Homo sapiens: one gene and its partner. Changing the gene in region 1 together with any one later gene gives a genetic interaction. Each region holds a gene or a part of one and is shown on either strand. Other genes may lie near its edges.

Evidence for each region. A genetic interaction does not mean that the proteins touch.
Region 2: changes in ZNHIT6 (region 1) and SRFBP1 together harm fitness more than expected from each alone (negative genetic interaction), as found in Homo sapiens cells (one large-scale study listed by BioGRID).

Annotation. Positions count from the first base shown.
Region 1 is NC_000001.11:85,649,434-85,652,933, forward strand, and holds part of ZNHIT6 (box C/D snoRNA protein 1), read right to left. Parts: 3' UTR 1-3,500. UniProt on the Homo sapiens protein: Required for box C/D snoRNAs accumulation involved in snoRNA processing, snoRNA transport to the nucleolus and ribosome biogenesis.
Region 2 is NC_000005.10:121,960,509-121,964,774, forward strand, and holds the start of SRFBP1 (serum response factor-binding protein 1), read left to right. Parts: upstream 1-1,466; 5' UTR 1,467-1,524; coding exon 1,525-1,560; intron 1,561-4,266. UniProt on the Homo sapiens protein: May be involved in regulating transcriptional activation of cardiac genes during the aging process. May play a role in biosynthesis and/or processing of SLC2A4 in adipose cells.

The DNA of each region.
Region 1 (3,500 bases):
ACTTTATTTGGCAAGAAAATAAAACTGGAAATAGAATTATATAGCAGCTCATCAAATGCTAAAGGATGCATTTGGTTCTAAAGTTCAAAATGAGTACAGTACATCACACTCCAGTATGGAAAATGTTCATGTTATAGGTCATTTTAATGAACACATGCACACACACTTTAGTTTTCAAAGACCAAAGTTTAAAGAAAATACTTTTTAGTCAAGTACAGATCCCCAAAGGTTTATTTAAAGCCAATTTTTATTTAAGTAGTCTTCATTTTTGAAGCATTTTCCCCTAGTACTCTAATTTCAAAATCAGTATCTCTCAAATGCTGATGCCACTGGGAAAAATTTCCAAATTGGTAATGGAAACATATGCTATGTGCATCTGCTCAAACTAGCAACAACATGATGTCAAATAAAAATGGATGGCATTAAAAAAAAAATCCAAAAACCTATAATGGCAACTCAAAGCAGCAATAATAAGAAGAAGAGATTAAAATCTCTAGTTAAAAACAATCAAGACTTGCAGATTAAATCTGAACTTTACTCCTTCTGTTAGTACAAATCAGAAACTTCTTGCTACTCAAATTCAAACAGGGTGCAATGAATGTGTTACTTTCGTATTCCCAGTAACTACCTTTCCTCACCTGCTCCCTACATTCTGGCTTTCTTCTAAAAATTTCCCCCTCCTTTGGGTGAATTCCTCTCTTGATTAGCTCAGGAACGGAATGTGATCCAATCTGGGCAAAATAAAAGTACTTCTCCAAAATTTTACATAGCTTGCTTTATAAAAGCTTTCAGCCTTGTTATGCTAAGGTAAGCTGAAAATGTCAATTGCTGTTATCCACCATCCTCTCACCTCACTGTTCCTCATCCCATACAGAATATCCCCAAAGGGAAAATCTGAAAAGAAAACCAATCCATAAAGAAGAAAATAATCAGAGCCAAGTGTGTAGGATGGCAAGATGACTGCTTTTGACGTTTGGACCCAGGACCCAGTCATTGCCTGGACTTCCCTGTATATAAGCCAATGAACTGCCCTTCATGCTGACACTATTTTGAGTTTTTGTCACTTGCATATAAACAACACATTTTAATGCAACAGAGTACAGCTTAGTCCATTTTGTGTCGCTATAATAGAATATCTAAGACTGGGTAACTTATTTTTAAAAAGAGTTTTATTTGGCTCATGATTCTGGTGGCTGGAAGGCTCAAGATTGGGCAGCTGTATCTGGTGAGGGTCTCATGTTGCTTCCACTCTTGGTACAAAGTGAAAGGGGAGTAGGTATGTGCAAAGAGATCACATGGGAAGGCAGGAGGCAAAAAGGAGAAAATCAAGAAAGCCAGACTCTTTAGTAACCCTTGCTTGTGAGAACTAATCCATTCCCACGACAGCAAGAATGAGAACTCACTCACCCCAGTAGGAGGGCATTAGTTTATTCATGTGGGATCTATCTGCCCCCATGACCCAAACACCTTCCATTAGGCTCTGCCTCCCAACACTAGCACATGGGGAATCTAATTTCAACATGAGTTTTGGTAGGAACAAACTATATTCAAACCATAACAGTATATGATTAAATAAAAATAGACCAGCATCTTTATGTAAAATTTAGTAACATGAAATAAGGTACAACACAAAGTATATGTCAACATAATTAAACAAAAATGTATAAAGAAAATTGTTGGCATTATAGTTATGTGATTAACATTTTAATTATATGTCATGAAACCCAAATCCCACTACTTGCTACAGGGAAACAAACTGGATCAACTACATTTTGGAATCTTAAATATCTATTTTTAATAACTTTTTTTTTTTTTGAGGCAGAGTCTCATTCTGTCACCCAGGCAGTGCCCAGGAATGCAGTGGAACAATCTCAGCTCACTGCAAACTCTGCCACCAGGGTTCAAGTGATTCTCGTGCCCCAGCTTCCTGAGTAGCTGGAATTACAGGTGCCTGCCACCACGCCTGGCTAATTTTTGTATTTTTAGTAGACACAGGGTTTTGCCATGTTGGCCAGGCTAGTCTCAAACACCTGACCTTGTGATCTGCCCGCCTCAGCCTCCCAAAGTGCTGGGATTACAGCTGTGAGCCACTGTGCCTAGCCAATTCATATTTATAAAAGGAATAGGTACAAGTTTTATTTACTATAATTTATGACTATTAATCCTATATGTATAATTAGCAATTATGAAAGGCCTATCTTCTCTTTGAAATCACTGTTTAAAAAAATAAAGAAAACCAGGTGGAGCTTTTCTCCTTTTAAAATGTGATTCATGAACAAAATGCAGGATGCTGAACTTAACATGGGTCAAGGAGTTTGTTTACACACCAGAATTTGACAATAAGCTAACATGGAGAGGGCCTCCAAAAAGATATTGGGTCTCAATGCTACAAACATCTAGGGTTTTCAGTTAGTTATTCCAATTTCATTCTCTCCAAGCCATTGGTAATTCACTAAAACACACGTGTATTGTAAATCTTACGGGAAAAAATATGCATATTAATCAAATGAGTTGATAATTATATTTAGGGGAATTCTAAGAGTTATATTCTTTCCTAATAGCCTATAATTGAAAAGTCTAATAGAATTCTAGAAAATAAAGATGGCAAAGATGCATTAGATAATATAGATTTCTTTTTTTCCTCCTGAGCAGTGGAAACTACAGGATAGTTTGTTTTCTGTCCAGGTTTCAATTTAAATTCAGAAGGGGGGATGGAACTCAAGACTTTTCTTGGAAATGAGACTACATCATAACAGATTTCACTGTCAAAAAATTCCTATCCACCCTCATATTCAGATCATATTCAGATCGCAAGTTCTTTTTGTATACGTTATCCCACTTCTCCTAATAACAACACGTTTCACTCAATTCATCTATTTCTTGCTGGTTTCAAGAAGACACATTTCACTTTTGATTATAAATGAATTCCTTGAAATCTTATTTGTCTCTCCAATAATACTGTGAACAACGTAATTCTACACAAATTCTTTATCATATATTAGAAGATTCCTGATGTTGCTTTAGAGATTATAAATATATATGTATGTATGTTTCTCAAGTTGCAAGGACTCACTTTCTATGAACTTTCTATGAATCACATTCCATTAGTACTTTCATACCAAGGGTCCTTCTGGCATTATTGTTTTTCGATTCTCTTCTCCAGTTTCTACCCCAAGTTATACTTGTGTCCCACAAATTTATCTTCTGCTCATCTTCTCATTCTCTTTTCATATTTCAGATCTTTTTAAGTCTCCTTAACTAACGTCTCTGGTTTCTTTTTGGTAAAAAACTTATTCCAACTGTAACTAAAAATCAATTTCATTAATGTCCAGTTTTATCATTGCTTTTTAACCATTAAGTACACACATACAATATAGATGTAACAATCTTTTTACTCTCTTACAGTCATATTGCAGTTTCACAGTGGTATAAACTCCAATAAAATTAAGAATTTTTTTTCAGTACATGAGATCAAACTGTATACAGAGCTGCCATAACGT
Region 2 (4,266 bases), on another chromosome or scaffold:
AATTAACAAACACCATGATGAGTCAAGAGACGCTATGGAAGAAACTTTTTTTTTTTTTTGAGACGAAGTTTCACTCTTGTTGCCCAGTCTGGAGTGATCTTGGCTCACGGCAACCTCCGCCTCCCAGGTTCAAGTGATTCTCCTGCCTCAGCCTCCCGAGTAGCTGGGATTACAAGCATGCGTCACCACGGTCGGCTAATTTTGTATTTTTAGTAGAGACGGGGTTTCTCCACGTTGGTCAGGCTGGTCTCGAACTCCCGACCTCAGGTGATCCGCCCGCCTAGGCTTCCTAAAGTACTGGGATTACAGGCATGAGCCACCACCCTCCGCCGGAAGAAACGTTTTTCCTGCATTTTGAATAAAGGGGCCTGGATTTTCATTTTGCACTGTACCCCAGGTATTATGTAGCTGGACTTGAAGTCCTGTAGCAGTGGACAGTCCCAGGCAAGTGACTCTGGGCGAGGCACTTGGTGCCTCTGAAGTCACTTTCCACATCTGTAAAATAATAGTTCAGAGCAGAGTAGGGTGGCTCACTCCTGTAGTCCTAGTTATTTGGAAGGCTGAGGTGAGAGGATGGCTTGAGCCCAAGAGTTTGAGGCTGCAGTGAGCTATGACTGTGCCACTGCACACCAGCCTGGATGACAAAGAGAGACTGGGTCTCTAACAAAATAATATTAATAAAAGGAAAATAATTTCTATCTTGTTGGATTTCTGTGGAGATTTGGAGCTAATTTATGTAAAGCTCTTGGACCACCATTTGACACATTTTAATGGTCAATACTAGAAGGTGTTGACAATTATATATTACCTAATTCAAACACACTCCCTTACGTCTCCTATGCTTGCCGGCTAATAAACAGCCATTCCCACAGGCAGTACCAAATGTGTATCCTGGTTTTGCTTCAAATGTTTATTCCCTAAATTTAAACCCTTCTATAGTGTGCAGGAAAAAAATGTCCGCACCTCAGCTATAATGTCAGGTTGTAACAAAAAACTGCGAGGATTTAAAAAGGTGTGCTTGTTAGAAAAGCAGAAATCTTCACAAATACTAGATTTAAAAAAATGGAAGCAAAAAATCGTTCATTCAAGTGATCATTTCAGAAGAGCTCTTTCACCGCCGTTCAGCGCCCCCCTAGCCATTAGAGAGAAAAACCAAGGCCGGTACAATGCGAGCGCAGTGTACCAAGGGAACACACACACACACACACACACACACACACACACACACACACACACACAAACCGAATCTTGAAAAACTAGACGTTGCCCAGCTACCAGCCCCCGTCTGGTTTCCATAGGAACGCGCAATTCCGTTGCGTAGCCCTCTGCGCCGGTAGTTGTTCTGTCTCAGTTCCGGTTTTCCCTTCCAAGCGTCAATGTTTCTTGTTCCCAGGCGGCAGCTAGAGCAGAAGGCGGATGAGTTTTGGACAGAAGAGGCTTCCGTTGAGGGGCGTGGCGACGCAGCCGCGGTCTGAGAGACCGGTTCACGTGCAGGCAGCGGCGGATCATATTCCTTCATCTACCATGGCTCAGCCGGGAACTCTGAACCTCAATAACGAGGTGAGCGCCGAGGAACCTATGGGGCTGACTTTAAGGGTCCTCAAAACCAGCTCTTTTGAGACGCGTGGTCGGAGGCGGGCATAGAGGGTGCGGTTGGAGGAACTTTCGTGGTGGGCCCAGGCGGGTTTCCCGCAACTTGGAGTTTGGCAACCGGTAATTTCCCTTTTCGGTCTCCAGGTGACTAAAGTGAGAGACATGTGTCAGGCCCCACGAATTTATGTCTGTGGGACTTTGGGAAGAACCTTTAGCCTGTACGTTCAATATTCTCGTCTGTAAAGCGGAACTCAAGATAGTTCGTCCCAGGGTTGTGAGATTAACTGAGATACGTAAAGTATTTGCAAGTGCCTGACCCTTAATAAACTTTCAGTACACATTACCTGCTCTTTATTGCCTGTCGAAAATGAAAGAGAGAAAGTAAGAGCTGTAGCTTCTAAGAAATTGGTGGTCTTGAATGAGACTGTATGCTCAGTACTTCGTTTCCTCTTCCAGTTAGTGTCCTATTTCTTTGCTTCCGTTTACAGCAGAACTTCAATAAAGAGCTGTTTATACTTGCTATCCTCAATTCTTTTTTCTGCTTTTTCAGTCCATTCTCATCAGACATTTGTTCTCACCACCGTCACTTCCATAGTGTGCGGTGTCGACAAAATACCATTTCTACCACTTATCCCCCTCTGGTTTCTGCTTCTATTCAACAAAATAATGTCATCCAAAGTCTTAAAGTAAGCTGGAAACATAAGGATCGAGTAAGGACCTCACAGTTAGATACAGAAAGGAAATTCTTTATCCCGTTTATGAGCAAGTCACTGTTTAGATTACACACAGTAGTGTAAGGGATATTTCATATTTTCTAGTAACCTATACTCAAGTAAGAGAGCTAAGCAACACTCACCTGTGTTACAGAACAATGTGTGAAGAATGCCTCCAAAACCTAGTAATGCAGAAAAGTTTCCAAAGGCGGCAAAATGAAATGGGTGATACTTGTCCTTGGTCTTTAGGGATCTTGCACAGGAATTGCAGTCAGTGATTCAGGAAAGGGGAAGAAGTCATTCCAGGCAGAGGGACTGGTATAAGCAGGAAAGGGCTAGTAGCAGAAGAACCCGTGGGTAATACAGGGATAAGTAACTCTTCACTGATGGGAACTTGTGAGATGAAGAAGGAAATAAAACTGAAATATATTCTCTGCTGCCAGATTAACGAGTCAGGATTTCAGTTGACAGTGGAGTACAGGATATGCTGAAGAGGGAAGCTGAAAGTAGTTACTATTTACTCATAAACATACATTAAGCTTGTGCTTTGTGCCAGAAAGCGTTTGGTGGGCTATTTTGCATTAGGTTACCTGTGATGTATGAAAGATCAGAGTAATGTCCCTGGGATTTCAACCCCAGGGAGCTTCATATCAAATTTTGTAATGACTTTGATGATGGAAATGACAGGGGATGAGTCATTAAAGACTCTTTTCACACTTAGCTAACTTTTGTTCTTCTTCAAAACAGTTAAAATTTGACCTTTAGGAAACCTTCATTAACTCCTCTCGGTCTGGGTTAGGTGTCTGTTCTTTGTGCACCCAGATTGCTTTCTCCTCTGGAAACACTTATGTAACTGTTTCTGTCTTCCTGTGTTTATGTGTCTATCATGTGTAGCACATATGTTTACTAGGTGATTACATGAATTTGTGAAAGCAGGAACTACACACATCCACCACTGAAGTCTAGTGTGTTCTAATGTGAAGGAGATAAAAAGGACAGAAAAAAGTGGAGATGATGGAGGATATTATAATTTAAAATTAGTGGGAAAAAAAACCCACAAAAGGAAAGAGAGATTTATCTACATAAAAATTGAATAACCTACCAAAGAAAAGAAATGACAACCAACTAGAAAAAAAAAATACAGCAGATATGACAAAGGGCTAATGCCCTTAATAGGAAATACCTCATAGAAATTAAAAGAAACCATCTCAGAAAATAGGCAGAAGAAATGAATTAACTTCTTCAAGGAGGAAATGTATCTGAAAAATAATTTGAATTCGCTTTCAATCTTTTCAATTCTTTTCCATCACCACTAGAATCCTAGTACAGCTACTGTACTAGCTTCCCAACTACTTACATTGACTCTTCTCAAACTTTAATCTTTTTTTTTTATATGTATACTTTAAGTTCTGGGGTACATGTGCAGAACGTGCAAGTTTGTTACATAGGTATACATGTGCCATGGTGGTTTACTGCACCCATTAACCTGTCGTCTACATTAGGTATTTCTCCTAATGCTATCCCTCCCCCTTTCCCCCCACCCGACAGGCCTTGGTGTGTGATGTTCCCTTCCCTGTGTCCATGTGTTCTCATTGTTCAACTCAAACTTATGAGTGAGAACATGCAGTGTTTGGTTTTCTGTTCTTGTGTTGCTTTGCAGAGAATGATGGTTTCCAGCATCATCCATGTCCCTGCAAAGGACATGAACTCATCATTTTTTATGGCTGCATAGTATTCCATGGTGTATATGTGCCGCATTTTCATTATCCAGTCTATCATTGATGGGCATTTGGGTTGGTTCAAAGTCTTTGCTGTTGTAAACAGTGCCACAATAAACATACATGTGCATGTGCCTTTGTAGTAGAATGATTTATAATCCTTAGGTATATAGCCAATAATGGGATTGCTGGGTCAAATGGTATTTCTATTGCTAGATCCTTGAGGAATCACCACACTGTCT